Regions from separate parts of the Homo sapiens genome. Here all the other regions are linked to region 1. The links come from fine-mapping of genetic effects on gene expression. A gene starts in region 1. Each other region holds a variant in brackets. All regions are shown on one strand. Distances are between the middles of the regions.

Evidence for each region. PIP is the estimated chance that this variant, and not a neighbour inherited with it, causes the effect.
Region 2: its variant is fine-mapped to the expression of GRIN2C in sigmoid colon (GTEx, PIP above 0.99). The same link has a PIP of 0.9 or more in esophagus muscle and tibial nerve.
Region 3: its variant is fine-mapped to the expression of GRIN2C in esophagus muscle (GTEx, PIP 0.96).

What each region holds. Positions count from the first base shown.
Region 1 is chr17:74,855,846-74,864,104 of GRCh38, forward strand. GRIN2C (glutamate ionotropic receptor NMDA type subunit 2C) reads right to left here and starts at 4,040. Exons shown (of 13, transcript NM_000835.6): 1 at 3,899-4,040. It overlaps FDXR (ferredoxin reductase), which reads right to left. Exons shown (of 12, transcript NM_024417.5): 10 at 8,051-8,222; 11 at 7,231-7,401; 12 at 6,652-7,102. The coding sequence ends at 6,972. RefSeq lists an enhancer at 4,867-5,565.
Region 2 is chr17:74,808,596-74,816,854 of GRCh38, forward strand. The region is part of intron 8 of SLC38A12 (solute carrier family 38 member 12); the gene reads left to right. Among named protein-coding and RNA genes, the nearest start is that of SLC38A12, 36 kb to the left of the region's middle. RefSeq lists an enhancer at 3,603-4,318. The variant C/G (reference allele first, on the strand shown) is at 3,383.
Region 3 is chr17:75,596,110-75,604,109 of GRCh38, forward strand. It overlaps MYO15B (myosin XVB), which reads left to right. Exons shown (of 64, transcript NM_001395058.1): 13 at 351-446; 14 at 659-790; 15 at 5,329-5,454; 16 at 6,408-6,485; 17 at 6,721-6,836; 18 at 6,923-6,968; 19 at 7,079-7,203. Among named protein-coding and RNA genes, the nearest start is that of MYO15B, 12 kb to the left of the region's middle. The variant C/G (reference allele first, on the strand shown) is at 4,239.

The DNA.
Region 1 (8,259 bases):
TCCTCCTGGGCACTGGACGTCACTACAGCCCTTCCTTCTGTGGCCTCAGCTAGTAGCAGCTCTTCCGCAGCAGGGTGCAACAGCACTGACTTGTTCAGAGCTCAGGGGTACCGGAAAACCCAAGCTGGTGAGCTGGGGTTTGGTCTTGTTACACATGAGCTGGTGAGCTGGCCTCTCGGGCCATCACTGGCGTGCAGGATCTTTTGAACCCAACCCAGGGGCCTGACACGTATCCTTGCTAAATGTCATTATTTTGGATTGGGACCAAGAGCCACAGCAGTGAGGGTAACACAAAGCCTGAGTGGAGTGGTGCCCACGGATGTCACTCTCCCTCCCAGCTGGCCATCGGCCATGGCACTGCCATCTCTCCCATCTTCATCACATCCCCAGCAAAACTTCTGAGCAGGGAAGAGCTAAAGGGTGGACAGGGTGAGCCTGCCACTCCAGCCCTCCCGCCTCCCCCAGGATCTGCACATCTCTGCTACAGAAATGCTCACGAAAATCAAGCAGTTGCCAGAAACCACGCCTCCGAAAGACAGATGCCCTTCAGGGATGGGGCCCGAGACAACTGCTGGGCAGGCTCCAGCTTTCTCACAGGGCCTTCCTTTTGCCTGCCACCAAATTTCTCTCTCTCTCTTTTTTTTTTTTTTTGAGACAGAGTCTTGCTCTGTCACCCAGACTGGAGTGCAGTGGTGCGATCTCGGCTCACTGCAAGCTCCACCTCCCGGGTTCATGCCATCCTCCTGCCTCGGCCTCCCAAGTAGCTGGGACTACAGGCGCCCACCACCATGCCCGGCTAATTTTTTGTATTTTTTAGTACAGATAGGGTTTCACCGTGTTAGCCAGGATGGTCTCGATCTCCTGACCTCATGATCTGCCCACCTCGGCCTCCCAAAGTGCTGGGATTACAGGCGTCAGCCACCACACCCAGCTATCTCTCTCTTTTTTTTTAATCCAAAGCCTAATGTCTTACAGACATATGGGCCTTCTTGTATCTCTAGTTCTCTCTAAGGAATCCAGAGAGCGGGGAAGTGCAAGAGGCTACCAGGAACATTCAGGAAAGTTCCTCTTCTCCCCAGGGTGGCACTGAAAGGATCCCTCCAGGGAACCCACTAAACCAACTTTAGTGTAGAAACATCAATTGGCCCGTGTGTGCTGAGCCCCTTCCCTGCAGCAGGCGCTGGATGGTGGAATGTCCCTATGGGTGAGACATGGTCCCTGCCCTCCAGGAACTTAGAGTCAAATCTGCAGAATGAGCATGCTGCTGTTAGCACCTCCAACCTCCTTTTTTCTAAATATATTTCTCTTTCCAACCTTCTCTCCCTACTTCCCTCAAACTCCCCAGCCTCCCCGTCAAGATCTTCTCTTAGCTAAGCATCTAGAGCTCATTCACAGGAAGGTATGAGGGACTGATCATAGCTGAAAGGGTTCTCATTCCCAAGAGAGATGTAGTTTAACCACAATCAGAGCCTTAAGCTAAAGTGCCAGGTGGTAGAATTTCAGGCCAAGAAGACAAGAGTTTTGGCAAGGAAGGGAATATTGCTCTCATGGTGGCGCCCTTGAAATCTTCCCATGTGTACGGTTCCCTAGTACAGTGACACAGAAGTGACAGAAGTGACAGAACTGACAGCCCAGAGACATGTTTGAGTCTGGCAAGGGATCGATCCTAGCCATGCCATGCCATGCCTCAGCTGCCACCACCAATCAGGGATGTCAGATCTCAACCACAAAGGACACTGACATGCTTGTCGCTCCCCTTGCACGGCCTCTGTCTGCTCACCTCTGCCCACACCTCCAGGTCCTAGAGGTTCCTTGCCCTCTGGGGAGCCCCAAACCTCCTACTACCCCTGCCTCCCAGTAATGAGCTCTAGATCTGTGCTGCCCAGTATAGGAGCCGCCAGTCATACACGACTATTGGGTACCAGAAACATCTCTCACCCAAACGGAGTTTGCTATCAGTGTAAAATTTCATGCCACACTGCACATTGAAGACAACAGGGAAAAAGAATGTAAAAAATCTCGTAAACACTTGTATCTTGATTACATGTTGAAATAATAACATTTGGGGTATGTTTAGTCAAAGAAAATATACTATTAAAATTAACGTCACCTGTTTCTATTTGTTTTAATGTGGTTACTAGAAAATTTTAAATTGTACTTGTGGCTCCCATTTTATTTCTTTGGACAGTGTGACCCTGGATGAAGGGCCCAGGCTCTCCCTCAACTGCAAAGGGGCAGAATAAGCAGTCTGCCATTAGCATCTCCAACCTCCTTTTTCTAAATGTATTTCTCTTTCCAACTCCCTACTCCCCTCAAGCTTCCACCCTCCCCAGTCAAGACCTTTTCTTAGCCAAGGACCTAGAGCTCATTCACATGAAGGAATAAGGGTCTGGTAATAGCTGAAAATGTTCTCATTCCCACTCTCTCCAATAGGAAGACATCCTCATGGGCTGGGGACACCAGAGACTCTCTCCAAAGGGAAGGTGTCCTGCTGGGTTGGGGGTTGGGGGTCGGGGGGTGGGGGAGTTGAGGCAGGTTGTACCTCTAATCAAGGGGCCTAAAATGGGGGAGGGATCCCAGAATACCTCCAGAGCCAGGGGCCAAAACTAGGTAAGTCCCTGGGCTCCAAATAGCAAGGGGCAGACTCAAGGAGCTTCCGAATTCTGTCTCATCACCCCGTCTAACCCAGCCACCCTACAGAGGTAGGAGGGACAAACTCCACTTTCCCCCGCCACAATCTCCTCCCTTGCCTCCCCCTCCCCACCTCCCACCTACCCACCCCCGCCAGCCCCACTGCACTGCTGAAGCCTTCCTCCAGCCACTGCTCCCTCCTCACACAGGACAGCTACACCCTGGTGCCCACAAATGAAGTCCAGACAGCTTAGTCCCATAGACAGAGCCCTCTGCACCCTGACCGCAACCAACCGTCCTCCCATCCCTGGAACCCACAGCTCTGCCAGTCTGCTGGCCAAACAGCCCCATTCTGCCCTCATCTCCAGGCCTCGTTCCAGCATCCCCCAGGCTGGAATGTCCTCATCCCAACAGAAGTCTACTCTCCTTCAGGGCCCAGCTGAAATCCCTCTCCCACAGGCACCTGCCTTGATGCCTCAGGCTCTAGGCGCAGGGACTGCGGCCAGGCTGGGGCACCTGCCCTTCTTCCCCCTGCCCTGGCTTCCCCTCCTGGGTGGGGAGCTCTGTGTAGTGGTCCCCTCCACCCCTCCATTCTGCCCTGCGGCAGGTGTGTGTGCACTCATTAACACCCTGCCCCACACTGGACTGCGGGCTCCTTGAGGGCAGACACATTGTCTCAGAGACCTCTGCCCACCCACCCACTCAGGGTCTCACCCCTTCCACAAACAGCCCTTAAACTAATGTTTGACAAACACAGAGATCCCCAAAGAGCCCCAGAGAGGATGGCAGTGGTCAGTCCTGCAGGACACAGCAGCATCTAGAAGGGTCTGAGCACCTTCCCAGGCTGGGGGCCTTCTCCTTCCCGGGTCCTCACAGCTCAGCCAGACCCCCTGGCACGGACCTGCACACACATGCACACTCCCGCACTCATACCCGCTCACATCTGAGATACCGATGGCTCTCCCTCTCCCAGGCTAGGAAACTCTGTCGCAGGAGTCCTCCCCACCCACCAGCAGAACCCCCGGACCCCCTGCCCTTCCGGTGAGCCGCCCCTCCTTTGCCGTCGGGTTTCCCTCCCTCCCTTTTGCCCAGCCAAAACCCGAACCCAGGCGCCAGGGGAGAGGACCGCCGTTCTAGCTTGCCCCACTGCTGGGGGCACGGAGTTCTTGCTCCTCCAAGGCTACGGCCCCCGTCTCCGCGGACCCCGCCCGGACTCCCCCTGGCCACCGGGACGCCCCGCCCCCTCCCCTCCGCAGCAATCTCTTACACTCGGGCTGTGAAGTTCGGGGTATTTTTAGGCCGGCGATAAATAATTCATAGGGAACGTGGCATCAGGCTCCCCCCGCGGGAGGAGGGGGCGCGAGCAGCGAGAGCCACCGTCACCCGCGGCTCAAGGACACTCGCGATGCGGCGGCGGCGGCGGCGGCGGCGGCTCCGGGCGGGGACCCGCGCCACGCCTCCTGGCGGCCAAGCTGAGCACCACGCACCCGGCGCCCCCCGCCCCACGCTGCCCCCCGCCGGCGTCCGCGGCTCCGGGGCCCCCACCCCCACTCCCCCAAGCTGGGTCGTGACCCCGAGTCCCGCAGTGGGGGGACCAAGCCAGCCTGGCAGGCGGCCCCAGTACCATCCCAGGCCCGCCCGGGGGCCCTGGGCGAACCCAGGTGTCCCGGACCTGCCTACCTGCCCCTGGCACGCTCTTATTCTTCGGGAGTTTAGAAACAGGCTCAAAGTCACTAGCACCGCCAAGACCTGGACGGGCTCTGAAATACAGCCAGCGGAATGGTACCCTCCCCAAATAAGTGTCTTTCCTCGATTTTCCTGTGGCCCGGGGTCAGGGACTGAACTAAGATAACGCCACCATCCGAGGGCTGGGGGACCGAGCCAGAAGTCCCCTTGGACGACCAGGGCTGGGAAACCGAGTGGACGAATGGGGTGGGCATCAGGGCCTGGCGGGAATTCCCGTCTTGCTCACCCAGCAGCTCCTTGCAGGGTCGCGGGACGCACCTGGGGGTTCAGGTTGCCGGGTGCCTTTGCTCCGCGTGTCCCCGCCCTGCCCGCGTAGGCAGGAAACAGGAGACTCGGGGCTTCCCCTCCCCGCCGTCGGGGATCCTGGGCGAAGCCCCCAGAGACCGGCGCAGGCGGCTGGTGCGCAGCCAGGGCCCAGCGCCAGGTCTTGCTCGCCCAGTGCCCTCTCTGCCTACCCTTCCCTTTGCGCTCTGGAAGCCCGGGAGCCGGGCACGGGCCAGCATCTGCAAGATGCCACTACTCTGGAAGCCCACTCCGATTCTCCCAGGTCGCAGGAAGGAGAGAGCTAGGCTGGGGCAAAGGAGATGGGGCAGAGCTGGAAGGGGAAGAAGCGGGACTCGCGGCGGGGGAAGGGGTCTGGGCGCCGAGGCGAGTGCGCAGCAGGTGCCCAGCAGACCTAGGGAAACTGGGGCACTGGGCTGGGGAGCCGCACAGCCCCCTTTCACCTTCTCGACTCCTTTCCAACCCCTCGCTCTGGTGGATCCCAGCCCCGGCCCCCACTCCCGGCCCTGTTCCCCGCTCTCCGCCCCGGCGGCTTCCAGCAGCAACAGTTTGGGTCCGCGGCAGCCCAGACTCCCCTGGTCCCGCGGTGCTGCCGCGCCAAGCGAAGGAGGAGGAGGGCTCGGCGACCCTGGGGACGAACGTCTTGGACGCTTCGCCCGCGTCCTTCTCTCGCGTCCGCCGCGCGCCTGTCTGCTCGGCCTCTTCTTCGCCTTCTCTCCGGCCGCCCGGGTCAAAACCCAAGGCCAGGTTCTTGAGGGTCCGGGTCCTCCAGCCGCCCCCTCCTTGAGCCCCGAGAGTCCTGCGTGGGTCCAACCCCCCGGGTGTCCCGCCTCTGTCTCCGCCGTCCTTGCTCGCGCGCCGCGGGAACCCAGCCCCAAGTTGGCGGCGAAGTTGGTGCCCCTCGCCCGCCGCTCGCCACTTACCGAGGGGAAGGGGCGCTGCGCCCGCGACGAGAGCCCGCGCCGGCCGCCTCCCTCGCGGTGTCTGTCCCAGAGCCTCGGCCCCGGAGGGCTGGCGCGCTCAGTCTCAGCTCCGCGGGCGCCGGAGCCCGGGCGCGGCGGGGCGGGGGCGGGGGCGGGTGGCGCGGCCTGGTCCGCTGGCCCCGACCCGCCCCTGCGCCCCGCGACCCTCCCGAAGCTCGCACGGCGCCCGGCTCCGTCCCGGGCTGGGCTGCGCACCGCGCCTCCTGCTCCCAGAGCTCGCAGCCGACTGTGCGGGAGCTCTCACCGCCGCCCGCGAGGGCCCGCCCCGCCGGGGCCCGCCACCTCCGCCCCGGCCCGGCCCGGCCCGCTGCCCCTCGAGGCCCCTCCCGCCGCATTCCCGGGCCCCTCTCCCCTCTCCGGAACCGCGTCCCCAGACCTGACACTCGGGGCAAGTGCGCCTCGGAGGACACACCAGCCTGCCCGGAGCCTGGGTTTGAGCCCGCAGCTCACGAGTGTGTGACCTTGGGCCAATTTCGAGGACCCCTCAGGTTATACAGCGAGGCAGCATCTTGAGGGCTGCCATAAAAGGGAGTGACCACTCTCTGGACACTGCAAAGCCCTAGGGAGACTGAGGCACTATTTTTAAAGGCCAGTGTGTCTGACTGGAAACGGAAGCAGGAAGGCTTTGAGAGCCAAAGAATGGGCCCCAGGCTAGACTCGCCTGGGGCACCCAGAGGTACAGGGGACAAGCTGCTTCTCAGTCCCCCGCTCCCATTTCTTTTCTGTTTTGATTGTACTGAGGGCTCCCCAGGGAGGGGTGGTCCCGGTCCCGGTCCCGGGCAGCCCTAGTGTGGACAGAAGACAGGCAACCCGCAGCCACAGCAGGGCCGAGCGGAGAAAGGAAGGGTGGCTATGCCAGGCCTGGCTGCCGAGCCCCATCAAGCCCCCAATGAGGCCCCTGAGCAGGGAGCCGTCTCTGCAGCGCCACCTGGTGATGGTAGGGGAGCTACGGCCAGAAGGTGACCCCCGACCCCAACCCTTCCAAAAAAAGTCCCCCATCAACCATGGCTCTTGGTTGCAGCTGTTTTATTTCCAGCATGTTCCCAACCTGGTGACCCTCCACAGTCCAGCAGTAGAGAGATGGGTAAGGGGTTAGATCGGCCCACACCTCCACCTGTCCCTAAGGTTACCTCAGTTGCTGAAAGCTAAAACCTTGCGCGCAAGGGCGACCTTCCCCAGGAGGGAGGAGAGACGCTGGAAGAGCAGCCAAGCCTCCAAGCCAGGGCCGGCCGGGATCAGCAGAGGTGCAAAGTCCCACTCAGACGGACCCAGCCCTTCCCCTCCCAACACTCATCCCTTCCCTGCTGGGGGCCGGGGCTGGGGCTGGGCTCAGTGGCCCAGGAGGCGCAGCATCTCCTGAGGATCCACCAGCTTCTCCCTGGGCTTCCCCGTGCCCTGGCCCCGGGCCACCTCCTCGGCATCCAGCTTCTCCCAGTCTGAGAAAGAGACTGGCCGGACCCCTGAAGCAGAGGGGAGATTGTCAACACCTCCTCCTTCACCCCTCCCAGAACAGCCCCCTCCCAAAGAGTGAGGCCCAGAGAAGGACCACCCACCCCACCTCCCAGGACCTCAGCATCGGGGCCCAGACCTCGGCTGCTGAGCAGGGCCTGGATGGCTGCGTAGCCAGGCCTGGGGCCAGAGGGGAGCAACCCAGCCTTCAGGTCCTGCAGCAGCATCTGGCCGGTGAGGAAGCTGTCAGTCATGGTTGTGGCTATGACACCTGTAGGTCCTCTCTTCACCCAGCCGCTGCAGTAGAGGCCTGAGAGGGGGTAACAAAAGGGGAAGGGAGGGAGGTGGCTGGATACCACCCTGGCCATCCTGTGCCCACAATCTACACCCACGTGCACGCACACAGACACCCCACGCCTCTTGGCAGACTGTCGGCTGAGCCTGCTGTGGCCGCTGGTCCACTGCCCTGGATTCTTCTCTCCCTGTTTTTACCAGGCCGACCCCCTTACACCTCAGTTTCCCTGTAGATGAGGGGATCCCTAAGCTTAGGAGCTGAGGCTTGCTCCCCTGCAGTTTCAGTAGGCCCTTGGTAAATGTTTACCAAGTGAATTAATCACTAGATAGGTATGTGGGCACTTAGTAAAACTGGAAGCTCCCTGAGGACACAGGCTGCCTTATTAATCTCCAATCCCAGCACTAAGCACAGGGCCTAACCCAGAAAAGACCTCAGTAAACGTTTGTTGAATGACTTAATGACCCGACGTATGTCACATATGTCCTAGCCAGACTGGAACTTCTCTCAGGGCCAAGAGGAGGGCGGCACTGGGTCCTAGAGAGGGCCTGCCCTGCAGAAGCTTCTCAGTACATGTTGCTAGATGAATGAACGCATGGCCCCAGGAGATACCAGCTTCTCGGCCTCTCACCATAATTCAGCACCCAGCCTCCTCACACCCTCTCACCTGGCACATCCATAACCCGGCCCTCCACATTGGGGATGACCCCAAGCTTGGAGTCAAAGGGCACGCTTGGGTCGACAGGGCGGCTCTTATACCCAATGCTGCTGAGCACCAGCCCACAAGGGAGGTCTTCCATGTCTCCCGTGGGCACTGCACGGGTGGCCTCATCGACACCCTGTTGGGGAGAGTGTGGGCAACACCAGGCGGGTGGC
Region 2 (8,259 bases), 47 kb before region 1:
CAGGTGTCTCGGGAAGCTTGGAGAGCTTGGGAAGGGCTCCAGGTAGAGAAGGGTGTCATGTTCAGGGGCTGAGCTCTTGCCACCAGCATCCCCTCAGTGTGAGCTTAATACCAGCTCCCAGCTAGAAGCTTGGAGACAACAGGCGGGGTATTACCAGGTGTGTGGACTCATCCTGGTTCCAAAGGTGGGTGGAGTTTGCTGCCTGGGGGCCACAGCGTGTGTTCTGGGCAGACACAGGCTCCCTCCTGCAGCGGCCACAGTGCATGGACAGTTTTCTGGCAGGTCAAAGCCAGGCTGCGCATCCGGTGCTGCAGGAGCCCCCAGTGGGTCATGGCATTAGGTTCCCTCCCAGGTGGCACCTTCCCCCACATGCCTCCCACGCACGGGCTCCTATGAGCCGCACTCTGCCTGATAGGAAGTTTCTGACGTTCCTTTTTCACCATCAAGGGGTTAGGGAGAAGATGCTCATTTTGTTGCCTCCCAGAGCTCCGGTAAAGATAGGTTACAAACCTCAGGTCCCTAACTAAGAAATTGAGCATGTCATTTACGTAGGGGTACGGGGTATTCAGAGGAGGTGGTTCAGAAAAGGAAGTATATGGGTTTTTCTTGGCTCTGTTTCCACTTGCCTTGAAAAGGGGGAAGCAGAGGTTTGAGGAAGGGACCTGGGGAGGTTTTCGGCTGTCAAACATTCAAAGACGGTCCTTCAGCCAGTGTTTGGGGAGTAACAGCAAACCCAAGAACTGCCTTCCAGACGCCTCTGGTTGTCTCCTCACTGACAGGGCTGAGCCTCAGAGCAGCCTCCCCCAGGCTCCTCAGGAGTCGTGAGCGGTGCCACAGTGGCTCTGGACTGTCCCTCCCGTGCTGTCCAGCTCTCCCTGTCTTTCTCGGAGCCCGCACAGGGGAGTCCAGGCAGCTCTCGTCCCATGCAGCCTGCGTCACAGCTGCCATGGGATGGCCAGACTCCTGGAGCGGGTGCTGCTTCGGTTCTGTGCGGGAAGCTCTCACGCAGCCCCTTCATGCCGCCTCTTTCCCAGCCACAGGCTAACATCGCATCCTGGGAGGTGGTGTTCTGGACCTGCAATAGCTCAGGCAGGCGGTGGACCAGGGCTGCTTGAGAGCCCTGGCCCCCCAGGTCCAAGGGGGCAACGTTGCATAAAAGAGAGCATCCATCCACCTTTCCCCTGGTTTCTTTCTCCCTGAAATCATTCTTCCAGGTTCCCCAGCATCAGAGTCGAATAACATTTTCACAAGTATCTGAGCAGAGGTAGCGCAGGTGCCCCACTGTTGGCCAGTCTGTACCTGTACCGAGAATGTGCCCAGAGTTCATCTTTATCTCCGCTAGCTGGGCGAAGGGACGGGTCTTTCCTCCCGACCAGCCCCTGGTTGCTGAGCTCCTGCTGCGAGGATTTGGTTTCTTTCCTCTGCTTTCTAGCTTGGTGGCCGCTTTGGAACACGCTGCTGGGACCTTCACTTTTGGCTCATGATTGCCTCTGCCTGGAGGCTCAGTGTCCTCCCGTCTTTGAGAAGAGCTGTAGATCTTCCGTCTCTCCACTCACGCATTCAGAACGAGGCTGCCAGCTTGGCGTGAGCAGCCATGGTTTTTTACTGAAGATAATGGTGACCTAGTGACAAGGTGCATAGAGCTGGCCTCTAATGCACAGGGGGCACCCACTTCTTTAGAGTCATCTAGGCATCAACCGTCAGTTCTGTCTTCGGTCATCATGTGAATCTTTCAAACTTGGAGTCTATTCAGTAGGCATCTCCCAAGGACCTTCTAGTTGAGGGGTTTGGGAAGATCAGGGGGAGCCAAGGACAAAGGGCCATGCTAACTTGTTCAAAAAGTGCGTTATGGCAGGTGTTGGGCTAACACTAATCACTGCTGCAGAGAGGGACGTGCACTGAGGGAGGCAGCCAGCCTCCGCCTGTCCTCATCTCTCACTCTGCACCAGGTACACAGTATTTGAGAATTGGTGGGGGCAAGATTGGCACTGTCTGTCATGCTTGCGTTGGTGTCTAGAACCCGACAGCCTGTCCTGGCACAAATCCCATCCCCTCCCAGTCTCTGGGTCAGCCCATTCCTGGGCTGGTCTTCAGGAGGGGCGCTGCTCACCCTCTGCCCTGTCGAGAACATTTTAGGAAGCTCATCCTTATATAGTTCCTTGTGAAAGTGCAATCATCCGCAGAATTCGGACGACCTCCTCTAGATGGCATGGTGCCTCTCATCACAGAGTTTTGGCAAATAAGCTGTGACAGTGGTTCATGGGATTTGGTGCACACAGGCTGCCGGCATGGTTTCTGACACGGCTCCTGCTCTCTTTCTCTGGCAGACGTCTTCCGCATGGTGAATGATCCTTTGTGTTTGGTCGGGAAGAACTTGGACTGTCTTAAAGAGCATTTGTACTGTAGTTGAACTTGAGTGGAGGTCATGGAAGTCAAATAAGAATAGTACTGGGGCTGGGCACCGTGGCTTACGCCTGGAATCCTAGCACTTTGGGAGGCCAAGGAAGGCAGATTGCTTGAGCTCAGGAGTTTGAAACCAGCCTGGGCAATATGGTAAGACCCTGTCTCTACAAAAAATACAAAAATTAGCGAGGCGTGGTGGCACACGCCTGTAGTCTCAGCTATTCAAGAGGCTGAGGTGGGAGGATTGCTTGAGCCTGGGAGGTCAAGGCTGCAGTGAATCATGATCACACTACTGCACTCCAGCCTGGGCAACAGAGCGAGACCTTGTCTGAAGAAACCAAAAAAAAACAAACAAAAAAATGCATTTGGACCATAGTTGAACTTGGGTGGACCTCATGGAAGTCAAATAAGAATAGTAGAATAGTACTGGGGGCCAGGCTGGCCAGGCATGGTGGCTCAGGCCTGTAATTCCAGCATTTTGGGAGGCCAAGGCAGGCAGATCACTTGAGGTCAGGAGTTCATGACCAGCCTGGCCAACATGGTGAAATCTCATCTCTACTAAAAATACAAAAATTAGCAAAGCGTGGTGGCATATGCCTGTAGCCCCAGCTACCTGGGAGGCTGAGGCAGGACAATCACTTGAGCCTGGGAGGTGGAGGTTGCCGCGAGCCAAGATCACACCACTGCACTTTAGCCTGGGCAGCAGAGTGAGACTATCTCAAAAAAAGAAAAAAGAAAAGAATAGTATTGGGGCTAGGCATGGTGGCTCACGCCTGTAATCCTAGCACTTTGGGAGGCCAAGGCAGGAGGATCACTTGAGGCCAGGAGTTTGAGACCAGCCTGGACAATATAGTGAGACCCCCATCTCTGCAAAAAAAATAATAATAATAATAATTAATTAGCAGAATGTGGTGGCATGCATTTGTAGTCGTAGCTACTCAGGAGGCTTAGGCGGGCAGATCGCTTGAGCCTAGGAGTT[C/G]GGGGCTGCAGTGAGCTATGATCGCACCACTGCACTCCAGCCTGGGTGACAGTGCCTCAAAAAAAAAAAAATAGCATTGACTTAACATTCTTTGGTTGGAGCTCCTTGCTTGGCTTCAGGAGTGCTGCGTTCCCCCACCGAGATGTTTGGACAGGAGTGATGACTTGGTGTGTGCTGACACAGGGGGTCAGGAAGCCACGCTCATGTCTGTTGAGTGTCTTCTGTGCACACGCAGCATGCTTTGAGGGGTTCAGGAACTTGAAAGCTCTCGCAGTTAGAAGGGACATCAGGATGCAAATCCTGCCCTAGCCACGTGACCCTGAAGCCTGTGGTCCTTCAGCTGACCCACACTGCCTCAGAACTCACCTTCGTGTGGGTGAATCCCCAGATACTGTAATTCAAGTTGAGAAAATAAAAACTTCCAAACCAAAACGTTCACAGCCACTTGAGAAATAAAAATAGAATCCTTGAACGTTTCTTCACTACACTTCAAGGACGTGTTGAAAGTTCACTTCCCATTTAGGGACGGGCTCATGCTGAGTTGCCATTAACCCCAATTAACTCTTAACCCCTTGTGCCCACCAAGAGCAGCCCTGGAGTCTGGGGGATCCTTTCTTTTATCGCTTGAAATAACCTCCAGGATCAGGGAGCTCGGCTGTGCGATTTGTGCGCTCCGCCTCCACCCAGATGAGCCCCCCTGCGCCCTCCTCACTCCAAGCCCGAGTGCTCCGTGGTCAGCTCCCACAGGTCTCTGTGCGTTTAAGGTAGCCCTATTCAACCTTTCAAGGCTTGCTGCTGTACGAGAAGTGCCTCTGTCACCCCTGCTACCTTAACAGAGAAATCCCCATCAGCCCCCAGCCCTGGAGTGAGAAGGCTCAGAGTGGACCTGCTGGCCTCCCGTGTTGAAACTCCGGGAGCTGACAGCTGGAGTGAAGAGAAGGCTGCTGGTGCCTGAATTCTTGGCTCTAGAAACTCCATCTCACTACAGCGTGGAAGCCAAAACCAAAAAAGCTTCATATTTTTAGAGGGAAAGAAATAAGCACACACTTAGAGAACTGCCCACATAGTAACCAACCAGTCCACTGCCTCAGTAGTGTTCATGGGAGCCAGCGGGTCACAGTGTCACTCCCCTGCCCCGCCCCACTTCAGTTCCAAGCCTTCTTGCCACTCCAGGATGAGAACAAAAGCGTCGCCTGCGTGCTTCCCTGGTCACTGCTGGCCGCTTTGGCCACTGGCATTTGTCTCCATGGGACATTGCCCGCTTTTCAAGTCTCAGTCAGGAGGCAGGGCTGGGAGGGACCCTCCCCTGGGCATCACCAGTCAGCTGACAGCTGCCCTTCCAAGTGTTTTCTCTGTCACTTGGTGCAAAGGGTAATTGTGTGTCACTCTTTGTCCCATGGGTTAGTTTTGGCGTGGAGTTGCACAGAAAGTTCTTAGGACTTGTCCTTTGTTGCAGCCCTCACTTCAGCCCCTCATTCTCCTGTCTCCCCTTTCTTGTGGGTTTTTTGTTTTGTTTTGTTTTGTTTTTTTGAGACAGGGTCTCGCTCTGTCACCCAGGCTGGAATGCAATGGCGCAATCTCAGCTTACCACAACCTCACTACAACCTCTGCCTCCCGGGTTCAAGCCGTTCTCCTGCCTCAGCCTCCTCAGTAGCTGGGATTACAGGCACCCGCCACCACGCCTGGCTAATTTTTGTATTTTTAGTAGAGACGGGGTTTTGCCATGTTGGCCAGGCTAGTCTTGAACTCCTGACCTCAGGTGATCTGCCCGCCTTGGCCTCCCAAAGTGCTGGGATTACAGGTGTGAGCCACCATGCCTGGCCTCCTGTCTCCCCTTTCTACCAGGGAAGTAGCCCCTCTGTCTTCCTTCCCCTTTTTTGAGGGAACTGAGATGGAACTATGAGTGTTGTTGAATTTCATCAAAGTCTTAGTTCCAGTTGGAAGCTGCAGTCCGCTCCGTCTCCTTCCAGCCAGAGGAAGGATGACGACCAGCAGCACTTGGGTTTTTAGTTTTGTCTTGTAAGCATTTTGGTGGGTGGCGGTGGGTGACTATTAGGGACACTGACTCCACTGTCTCCAGAAAGTAGGGATGAAAAGGATCACTCCTTTCAAGACCTTGAGCTTCTTCACTTTAGGTGAAGATGTCTTCTAAGACACCACCCCTCTGGGAGCCAAGCAGACTGAGAGTGGTCACAGTTCACCAGAGTCTGATCCCCTTCTTTGTGGGGACCTTGGAGATGCTGGTGATGGCGGGAAGCCGGGCATCCCAGGCCCCCTTCCTGTGGGGATCTTGGAGATGCTGGGGAGCCAGGCACCCCAGGCCCCCTTCCTGTGGGGATCTTGGAGATGCCGATGATGGTGGGGAGCCGGGCACCCCAGGCCCCCTTCCTGTGGGGATCTTGGAGATGCTGGTGATAGTGGGGAGTCGGGCACCCCAGGCTCTTCCCGGGTGCACTCTCTTCTTCATGGAGGGAGGAATATCATTCTCCCTGAAGCCAGTGGGTAAACTCAGAGCCATGCTGTTTTGATTTGATGTGTGTTTCCTAAAATCATAACATGTCAATTCCTCAGCTGCGTTGGGAAGAGTTATTCCCTGACTATGTGCTGTTTTTAGGCAGAGCAGGTGACTCTTGCCCACATGCTGCTGGCTTTGCCAAGTCAGGCACTGCCCCCCGCAGGAGGCATGGAAAACGTGTACAAGGCAGGTTGGCAAGACTGGGGCTGCCCCTTCACCCACTCTAGCAGGCACTCCCCCCACCAAATGCAGTGCATCCTACAAAGCTTTTGTGAGCATCCCACGTTTGAGAGCCTTCCTAGGTGCTGCGACAAACAAGGATGCAGTCCTTGCCCTCAAGGGGGTTACACTCTGCTGGGGACACAAAATCAACCCAAGAGAAAGCAGCGGTTCAGAGCCTACTGGAATGAAGTCAGGTGGTATCAACTGTGTGTTGGTAATTCAGTCAAGAGCCCCCAGGGAGGATTAAAATAACTTGTAGAGGAGATTGGCACTTGAGCAGGGCTCAGAAGGTCACAGGGGAAGATTCTTTGCCAGCAGGAGGGTGAAGGCATGAGGTTGAAAATTTGAGGACGGGGTGTCAGAGAGGGGGACCTTCTCCCTCTGCCGCTTTCTGGCTGTGTCACTGAACCTCTCCAGCCCCCCAGTTTCCTCATCAGTAAGATGAGGGCATCGTCACCTGCACCAGTGACCTTGCAGCGGGCCATGAGCATGAAATGAAACCATGTGTGTTAGCGCTTGGCAGAGTGTGGAGGGGCTGCAGCTTGGGCAGTGATGTTATCACAGGGCAGTTTTGATAGCACAGGGCAGGGCGGATCAAAGGACCAGTGGCTGGGACAATGCGGCCTTGGGATTGGCTGTGACAGATCTGCAGGCAGAGGGTGGGACCCGGAGACTGTACAAGGTGTTAAACAGGGTATTTAATTTGAGATTGGCACCAAGTTTAAAATTTCATTTTGTTTCTCTGACCAGCTAAATGTGCAGAGAAATTTGGGGATGGGGAGATAAGTATCTACCCGCTTTACTTTTGTGCTCTAATGTTGACGCCCTCACTCACACGCTCCGTGGTGCGGTTAAAGGACATAACACATTGCCAGTCCTGGGCTCCTTTTGCATATGACACAGAAGCACGCAGAGTCGGAGCCTTTCTTCTGTAAGTGCCATGTGCTGTAGGGTTAGAACTGGAGAGGAGGGAGGCAGGTGGTGGACACGGCACAGCCTCAGCAGGCGTGAGTTGAGCGTTCTTGGTTTAAAGATCCATTCTCGGAAGTAGCACAGCATTTGTTTCTCCCATTCCATGGCTGGGCAGCTGACTCTTCAGTCTGTTCCAAACCACTCCAAGAGGAAAGTGGAGGCTCCAGTTAGTGACTGAGCCCTTGGTACCCAGATGCCAGGCTGCTCAAACAGGCACAAGTGTCAGTACTTCCGGGTCCTCAGCAAAGCCACGTCCTGTCCAGGAAATCTCCAGGCACAGCCCACAACAGGCCCCCGTGAGGCTGCAGGGTCCCTTCCCCACATCTTCGAGTCACTGATTCTGAAGAGTAGATTTCCTTCCTGTCCAGAGGACAGAAGGCTGGGCTTGAGATTAGGCACTCTCTTTACTCCCTACTGTGCTTAAATCTCATTTCTGGTGGCATCTAGAGAAACGGCTCCTCCCTGTCAGCCCCATCCTTAATGCATGCGTAGGACTGGGCTCTGTCCTGTTGGGGGTGCTATTGGGAGCCTTGCCTTGCAAGAGGGCACTTCTGGCCTGGGAGAGAACACACATCTGTGGTTTGAAGCCCCCCAGTTTGTGGTCATCTGTGATAGCAGCCCCAGGAACCTCATGTAGAGAGCAAGGAAAGAGTCAGAGATTGCTGGAAGTCTGGAGCCTGGGCAACTGGAGGTGGGCAGCGCATGTAAGGGACACAGGAGGACAGGCAGCCCTGTTGAGCTGTAGACTGCAGAACGTTCTAAAAGAGCTGTGGCTGAGCATTGCCTGCAGTGCCCTGGGAATGTTAGCCTCCTTGTCTCCATCAAGACTTCAGCAAGGCTGCTGTGGGGCCCCTGGTGTTATCTAAACTCACTGACCCAAAAAGAAAGAGGATCTGAACAGACCCATTTGTACTCTCCTGGGTCCGTCCCGGACTTTATTCCCCATGACCAGTTTGAAGATGTTATTAGAAATCAGAGTTTTCTTTTTTCGTTTTTTTTTGTTTTTTTTTAGAAATGTGCTTGGCTGCAGCGACTCGTGTCTCTGCCTCCTGTAATGAGTTGGGCTACAAGAGTCCTTGAGCAGAGACTGAGTTTGAACTGATCAATGGCATTTGGGGGTTGGAAAATTGCTCAGGAGCCAGCTAATTTATAATGTCATATGGGCTAG
Region 3 (8,000 bases), 740 kb after region 1:
GGCAGCAGCCTGGAGCCCTGTGCATGAGGATGCGGGACTCTGATAGCCAACCTGCTATTTAGTAGGGAAAGTCGCCTTCCAAGCCACAGGATGGCCGTGACAAGAGGCCCAAAGGCTCGCAGGAGTGCTGCAGCAGAGGGCAGGGGTGTGGGCAGCTAGAGGGACCTGTGGCTGGGCAGGGCTGAGGTAGCCCGTGTGCTGTGCCGGATCCTTTAGACTTGACCCTGTTGGCTACACAGCATCAGCCCTGGGTATTACTCATCCCTGCGCCCTGGCCAGAATGAAGGAAGCCTCTGGGGTGGGGGGAGGGCACAGCCCCATGTGCCCACCTCACTGCCACATGCCCCCAGGCCCTGCGGGTGAATGGCCTGGAGCAACTGTGCAACAACCTCGCCAGCGAGCGCCTACAGCTCTTCTCCAGCCAGATGCTGCTGGCCCAGGAGGAGGTAAGAGGATTGGGCGTGGACGTGGCAGGGGCCGCTCAGGCATTGCCCAGGCAGAGGCCATCCTTGGTGAAGGAAAGTTGGGAACTGAGAGCTCTGCCTGGAAGGCCCCTTTCCATGAGGTGTCTCAGTCTTCTGAGCCTCAATGTACTATTCTATAAGATGGGAGGGTTATCCCTGCTCCTGCAAAATGGCCAAATGCCGGCTGTTCCCAGGAGGAGTGTCGGCGGGAGTTGCTGTCCTGGGTGCCTGTCCCTCAGCCTCCGAGGGAGTCCTGCCTAGACCTCCTGGTAGATCAGCCCCACAGCCTCCTGAGTATCCTGGACGCCCAGACATGGCTGTCCCAGGTAAGGGCCAGGATGGTGACCCCCCACCCAGTGTCGGGAAGGAGTGGAGGCCCTGGGTGTCCAGGCTGTAGCTGGCAGAGCCTCCCAGAGGGGACAAGGTTATGGGATCCAGCGACCCTGATCACAGTTCCTCAGCACAGCCTGGGACAGCAGCAGCGAAGGGGAAGAACCCTGGGCTCCCGCAGAGCTGGGTTCACATCTTGTCTCGGGGTGATCTTGAGCATGACATCTGGCCTCTGAGGTTCCTCACGTACCTGCCACAGAAGGGGGACAGTAGTGCCCGATGGGCAAGGTGGCGGGGACTGCACGAGGCTCATGAAGGGCTTCTGCAGGTCCCTCACAATTGTGGCTAGGTGGCCACTGAGGCCTCTGACTGGTCGGGGACAAACCCCAGGGTACCATGTCCCCCATTCCACAAATGCTTTCTGACTGCCTCCTGCCTGCTCAGACTTAAATAGCAGCCTCGTCCCTGTTTCCCGTTTCAGCGCGCGTCCACATGCAGTCACAGCGTCTATTCATTCACTGACTCCTTACCGCGCCAGACTGGGCTCCACAAGGGCGGGTGCCCGTGTGAAGGGTTTGAGCTCTATCTGCAGCACGTGTTAAGGAAATAATGAATGAATGAATAACTGTGCCAGGAACTGTGCTAAGGATAAAAGGTGAACAAAATTAGACCCAGTCTCTCCCCTCTTACAGCCCGCAGTGCAGCAGGAGAGAAATGTTCATTTAAAAAAACAGGCCTTGGCCAAGCTCAGTGGCTCACGCCTGTAATCCCAGAACTTTGGGAGGCCAAGGTGGGTGGATCCCTTGAGCCCAGGAGCTCGAGACCAACATGAAAAAACCCTGTCTCTACAGAAAATACAACAATTAGCCTGGTGTGGTGGTGTGAGCCTATAGTTAGAGCTACTTGGGAGGCTGAGGTGGATGGATTGCTTGAGCCCAGGACGTCAAGGATGCAGTGAGCCATGATCATGCCACTGCACTCCAGCCTGGGTGACAGAGTGAGAAGTTGTTTCAAACTAATTAATTATAAAAAAACAAACCAAAAACGCAGAGCCAAATACAAAATCACCCCTGTGCGGCTCCGTGGGTGGGCGTGTGGGGCAGGGAGAGTTGGGGGGCGTCATGAGCCTCTAGGAGCTGAGGCTGGAATGTGGAGCAGGAGTTTCTGTGGAAGCTCAATATAACGTGATCCTGAATATGGGGCAACCCTCCCCCATTTTCCCAATTAGTGGTTGAGAATGAAAGGTGAGCCAGGCATGGGAGGCTGAGGCAGGAGAATCGCTTGAACCCAGGAGGCGGAGGTTGCAGTGAGCCGAGATCGTGCCACTACACTCCAGCCTGGGGACAGAGCAAGACTCCGTCTCAAAAAAAAGAAAAGAAAAGAAAAGAAAATGGGCCAGGCGCGGTGGCTCACGCCTGTAATCCCAGCACTTTGGGAGGCCAAGGTGGACAGATCTCGAGGTCAGCAGATCGAGACCATCCTGGCTAACATGGTGAAACCCGGTCTCTACTAAAAATACAAAAAATTAGCCGGGCGTGATAGTGGGCGCCTGTAGTCCCAGCTACTGGGGAGGCTGAGGCAGGAGAATGGCGTGAGCCTGGGCGACAGAGCGAGACTCCATCTCAAAAAAAAAAAAAAAAAAAGAAAATGAAAGGTGAAAAACAATGGTAAAATCATCAAATGTTATTGTAATAGTTCGTTGATCACTGTCATATTAATGCAATACATGTCTTCATGTACTATATATTGATATATAACAAGTCACATTAATATATGATATATAATGTTCATTTATTAATACTTATACGTATGTAAAGTCTTGTACTAGATAATTAAGAGAGTGTTAATTTCTAAACGATTGTTTCTCCCAGTTCACATTTCATAATGTTTTGTTAAAACTTGTCACGAGTGTCTTTGAGGTCCCAAGATCACTTTTGGAATCCCCCAGCATGGATTTCCAGGGCTCAGCAATATCACTTAGGTCTATGTTATGTGACATGTACCATTTTCTGAGTCCGAGGTGGGTGCTGAGCCTGGAATTGTTACCCCAAACCCAAGTTCTCATTTACATAATATAGGCAAGTTCCCCCATGCACTTGCTATTTTATGTTCATTAGCTCAGTAAAATAACGTCCAACTAAATTACTTTTTAGTTTTATTTTTATATTTTAAAAAATAGAGATGGGGTCTCCCTATGTTGCCCAGGCTGGTCTCAACCTCCTGGGCTCAAGCAATCCTCCCACCGTTGCCTCTCAAAGTGCTGGGATTACAGGTGTGAGCTACTGCACCTGTCCTTGAGTTACTGTGTGTGTTTGTGTATGTGTGTTTTAACTGACTCCTACTATCATTCCCAACTGAGTTACTTTTTGAAAGTGATTTTTTTTTTTTTTTGAGACAGAGTCTCGCTGTTGCCCAGGTTGGAGTGCAGTGGCGTGATCTTGGCCCACTGCAAGCTCCGCCTCGCGGGTTGACGCCATTCTACTGCCTCAGCCTTCCAAGTAGCTGGGACTACAGGCACCCGCCACCATGCTTGGCTAATTTTTTTTTCTTTTTTTTTGTATTTTTAGTAGAGACGGGGTTTCACCATGTTAGCCAGGATGGTTGATCTCCTGATCTTGTGAGCCACCCACCTCAGCCTCCCAAAGTGCTGGGATTACAGGCACAAGCCACCGCACCTGGCCTGAAAGTGATCTTTGAAAGACTTGGTTAAAAGCACATGTAGGCCGGGCGCGGTGGCTCATCTCTGTAATCCCAGAACTTTGGGAGGCTGAGGCGGGCAGATCACGAGGTCAGGAGATCGAGACCACAGTGTAAACCCTGTCTCTACTAAAAATACAAAAAATGAGTCGAGCGTGGTGGCGGGTGCCTGTAGTCCCAGCTACTCGGGAGGCTGAGGCAGGAGAATGGCATGAACCCGGGAGGTGGAGGTTGCAGTGAGCCGAGATCGTGCCACTGCACTCCAGCCTGGGTGACAGAGCAAGACTCGTCTCAAAATAATAATAATAATAATAATAATAATGAAATAAATAAATACAAGCGCATGTGATTCTGGGACTATTCTCCCAGGAATGGTTGCTAAATCTGTACTAAAGCTCCTCATCTCTATTTCTTTTTTTTTCTTTTTTCTTTTTTTTTTTTGAGACAGAGCCTTGCTCTGTCGCCCAGGCTGGAGTGCAGTGGCGTGATCTCAGCTCACTGCTGCAAACTCCGCCTCTCGGGTTCACGCCATTCTCCTGCCTCAGCCTCCCGAGTAGCTGGGACCGCAGGTGCCCGCCACCATGCCCGGCTAATTTTTTGTATTTTTTAGTAAAGACGGGGTTTCACCATGTTAGCCAGGATGGTCTCGATCTCCTGACCTCGTGATCCACCTGCTTCGGCCTCCCAAAGTGCTGGGATTACAGGCGTGAGCCACCGCGTCCGGCCTAAGAGTGATCTTTGAAAGAC[C/G]TGTTTAAAAGCACATGTGATTGTGGGACCATTCTCCCAGGAATGATTGCTAAATCTGTACTAAAGTGCCCCATCCCCATTTCTTTTTTTTTTTTTGTTTAAGTACTTACTTATTTTAGAAATGGGGTCTCACTCTCTCACGCAGGCTGGAGTGCAGTGACACCATCATAGCTTACTGCAGCCTCAAGCTCCCAGTCTCAATCAGTCCTTCCACCCAGCTAATGTTACTTTTTTCTTTTCTTTTTTTTTTTTTTTGAGACGGAGTTTGGTTCTTGTTGCCCAGGCTGGAGTGCAATGGTGCGGTCTCGGCTCACTGCAACCTCCACCTCCCAGGTTCAAATGATTCTCCTGCTTCAGCTTCCTGAGTAGCTGGGATTACAGGCATGAGTCACCATGCCCAGCTAATTTTTTTGTATTTTTAGTAGAGACAGGGTTTCACTATGTTGGCCAGGCTGGTCTTGAACTCCTGACCTCAGGTGATCCACCTGCCTTGGCCTCAAAGCGCTGCGGTTACAGGCATGAGCCACTGCGCCTAGCCCCACCCAGCTAATTTTTAATTTTTTTTTTTTTTTTTGAGATGGAGTCTCGCACTGTCACCCAGGCTGTAGTGCAATGGTGCCATCGTGGCTCACTGCAACCTCCGCCTCCTGGGTTCAAGTGATTCTCCTGCCTCAGCCTCCTGAGTAGCTGAGATTACAGGCACCTGCCACCACGCCCAGCTAATTTTTTGTATTTTTAGTAGAGTTGGGATTTCACTATGTTGGCCAGGCTGGTCTCGAACTCCTGACCTTGTGATCTGCCTGTCTCGGCCTCCCAAAGTGCTGAGATTACATGCGTGAGCCACCGCGCCCAGCCCAATTTTTAAATTTTTTGTAGAGATGGGATCTCACTAGGTTGCCCAGGCTGATCTCGAACTCCTATCCTCAAACGATCCGACCACCTCGGCCTCCCAAAGCGCTTGTTTTGGGGAACAAAGCCAAACCTACCCTTATAGTCAGTGTAGGCAGTACTCGTGCTCACCGGGAGAGGGCGCCATCCAGAAGGACAGCCTGTGCAGAGGCGTGAAGGGAGCTCATGGCTCCTCTCCTAGGCCACGGACCACACCTTCCTCCAGAAGAGCCACTATCACCATGGTGACCACCCCAGCTATGCCAAGCCCCGGCTGCCCCTGCCCGTGTTCACCGTGCGACATTATGCAGGGACTGTCACCTACCAGGTACCTGGCCTCAGGGACAGACCAGGGTGAATCAGCGAGGGCAGTGTCCCCTCCCAAGCTGAGTCACCCGACAGCGGAGAGGAGTGGGTGTGGGGAGGCCCCTTGCAAGGCTTGGACACCTGTCCCTACCTGAGCCATGGGCCCTGCCCAGTTCTGAGCACGGTTTACTGAGTTCTAGGTGACAATTATGGGGTCAGGGAGTGGAAGCCTTGGGACCCTCCAGACAAGTGGGCAGAGCACAAGCATGGGACCTGATGACCTTGGCAGTTTACTTCGCCTTCTGAGCCTCCGTTTCCTCACCTGTAAAATGGGTATGGAGACCTAAGCTCTGGCGTTGCTGTGAGGGTGAGATGTAGTAACGTGGAGATGGCCTGGCAGGTGCCTGGCACATAGTAGGTGCTCACTGAATGGACTTCCCTTCCCCCTTCCGAGTTCTATGCCTACCAAGAAGCTGCACGCGTGCCTACCCCAGGAGGAGAGGAACTGGGGGTGGGGGAGCGGGGGCTGGAATAAAGGGAAGGGCAGTAGGGAGAATCAGTTCTCCCTGGAGGAGATGGCACACTTTGCTTGGAGAAGAAAAACTACAAACTACCCAGGAGTTGCCCCCAAAAAAGAAATACAAGGAGTTCAAGAAAGCTAGGAAAATGTAAATCAAAATAGATTTAATATGGAGAGACAGACAACATTCTTGTCTAGTCAACCTATTGACTAGCATAGGTTAAAGCCCCAGTGGGGAGAGTGTGGTCTTGCTGGGGACTGGACCTGTCCATGGGGTGGAATGGAAAGTCCAGTGGCAGACCCAAGGCTAGGTAAAGGGCTGGAAACACCAAGGCAGCCTTTCAGGTCACCTGGGGAGAGGGTAGATTCTTCTCCTCCATATCCAGCCTCCCCTCCTTGGTTCCTGTTCTCCTCCCTTTCTCCACTTCCCTCCCCACCTGCATGGTCTCTTGCAGGTTCACAAGTTTTTAAACAGAAACCGGGATCAGCTGGACCCTGCTGTGGTGGAGATGCTTGGCCAGAGCCAGCTCCAGGTGCCCATCTGCCCTTCCAGGCCCCCACCCGCTCCATACTCTGTCCCCCAATTCTGTCCTTTTCCCCCTGGGCGCTCTTGCCCAAGGGTTGGCCCTCAAGTCCCTGGCACCTTGGGCCATGGGCTGAGCTTGCCAGGGTCTGGATGCCGAGGGCTGGTCCATTCTGGCTCTCCCGGGCTGCAGGGTGGATGGGCACGCCCCAGCGGCCAGCTGACTCAGCCCTTCACCCCCACAGCTGGTGGGCAGCCTGTTCCAGGAGGCAGAGCCCCAGTCCAGGGGAGGGCGAGGCAGACCCACGCTGGCCTCTCGCTTCCAGCAGGCCCTGGAGGACCTCATAGCCCGGCTGGGCAGGTAAGAACAGCGCCCGCCACACCAGACCCCAGGGAGTTGTATGGGGCTCCAGTCTGTGCCCGAGTGACCCCTCTTTCCCTCATCAGGAGCCATGTCTATTTCATCCAGTGCCTCACCCCTAACCCTGGAAAGGTGAGCTCCCCAGCAACTGGCCTCAGGGCCCTCCCCCTCCCTGCACCTCCCTCCCCACAGCTCTAGGCCCCTTGACTCCAGCTGTCTTTGGCTCTGTCTTGTGGCCACAGCTTCCAGGCCTCTTTGACGTGGGACATGTGACAGAGCAACTGCACCAGGCAGCCATACTGGAGGCCGTGGGCACCCGCAGTGCCAACTTCCCCGTGCGTGTGCCCTTTGAGGCCTTCCTGGCCAGGTGGGGCCCAGCACCTCGGGGCAGGACTGACAAGGAGGCCACCGGGAGTGACTGGCAGCCCCGGGGGTCCTTCTGATTGGAGATGGACTCACTCTGCCCAGGACTGGGCCTAGCACCCAACCCTCCCTCTCTCTCCTCGTCCTCTCATCCTCTCTCTCTCTCTCTTTCTCTCTCCATCTCACTCTCTTCTACCATTCACCATCCCTCCACGCATTCGTCATTTCTTCTCCTCTCTGCAAACCTCTCCTGTGCTGATGCCTGGGCACCAGAGATGAGGTGGGAGCAGTACCTGCCCTAGGCGGGGCTCACGGTCTAGTGCCCACAGCAGCTGTCCAGGGAGTGCAGGCTGAAGCAGTGAGATGGCAGGGGGGACGGAGTGAGAAAAGAGCCTCTCAGAAGGGCAGGAGGGGCGGGGAGGGGCGGGGTGGCACATGGAGCTGCCAGGAACCCCAGAGGCAGCTCTGTTCCCAGAGTTCAGAAACCTCCAAGAAAAGCTGGTGGCATTGTCCGTTTTGTTGTTTGCCTATCTGGCCTTTGGCTATTGACTGGATGGCATCTTGGGAATCCTCTGAAGGGCTGGAGTTTACCCCAAGCACAGGGACAGAGGGAGCAGGTGGAGTCACTTCTCGTTGATGTCCAGCTGAGCTGGGCTGGTGGCTGCCTCAGAAGGGAGGGGGCAGCTACTAGGAGCAGCAGCCTCACCCCAGGGCTCTGTGGACCTCCTTAGCCTGTGATGGCCTTGGCAATGGGGATGGCCTGGTTGGGGGACTGAGCAAAAGGCAGGCAGTAGGGATGGG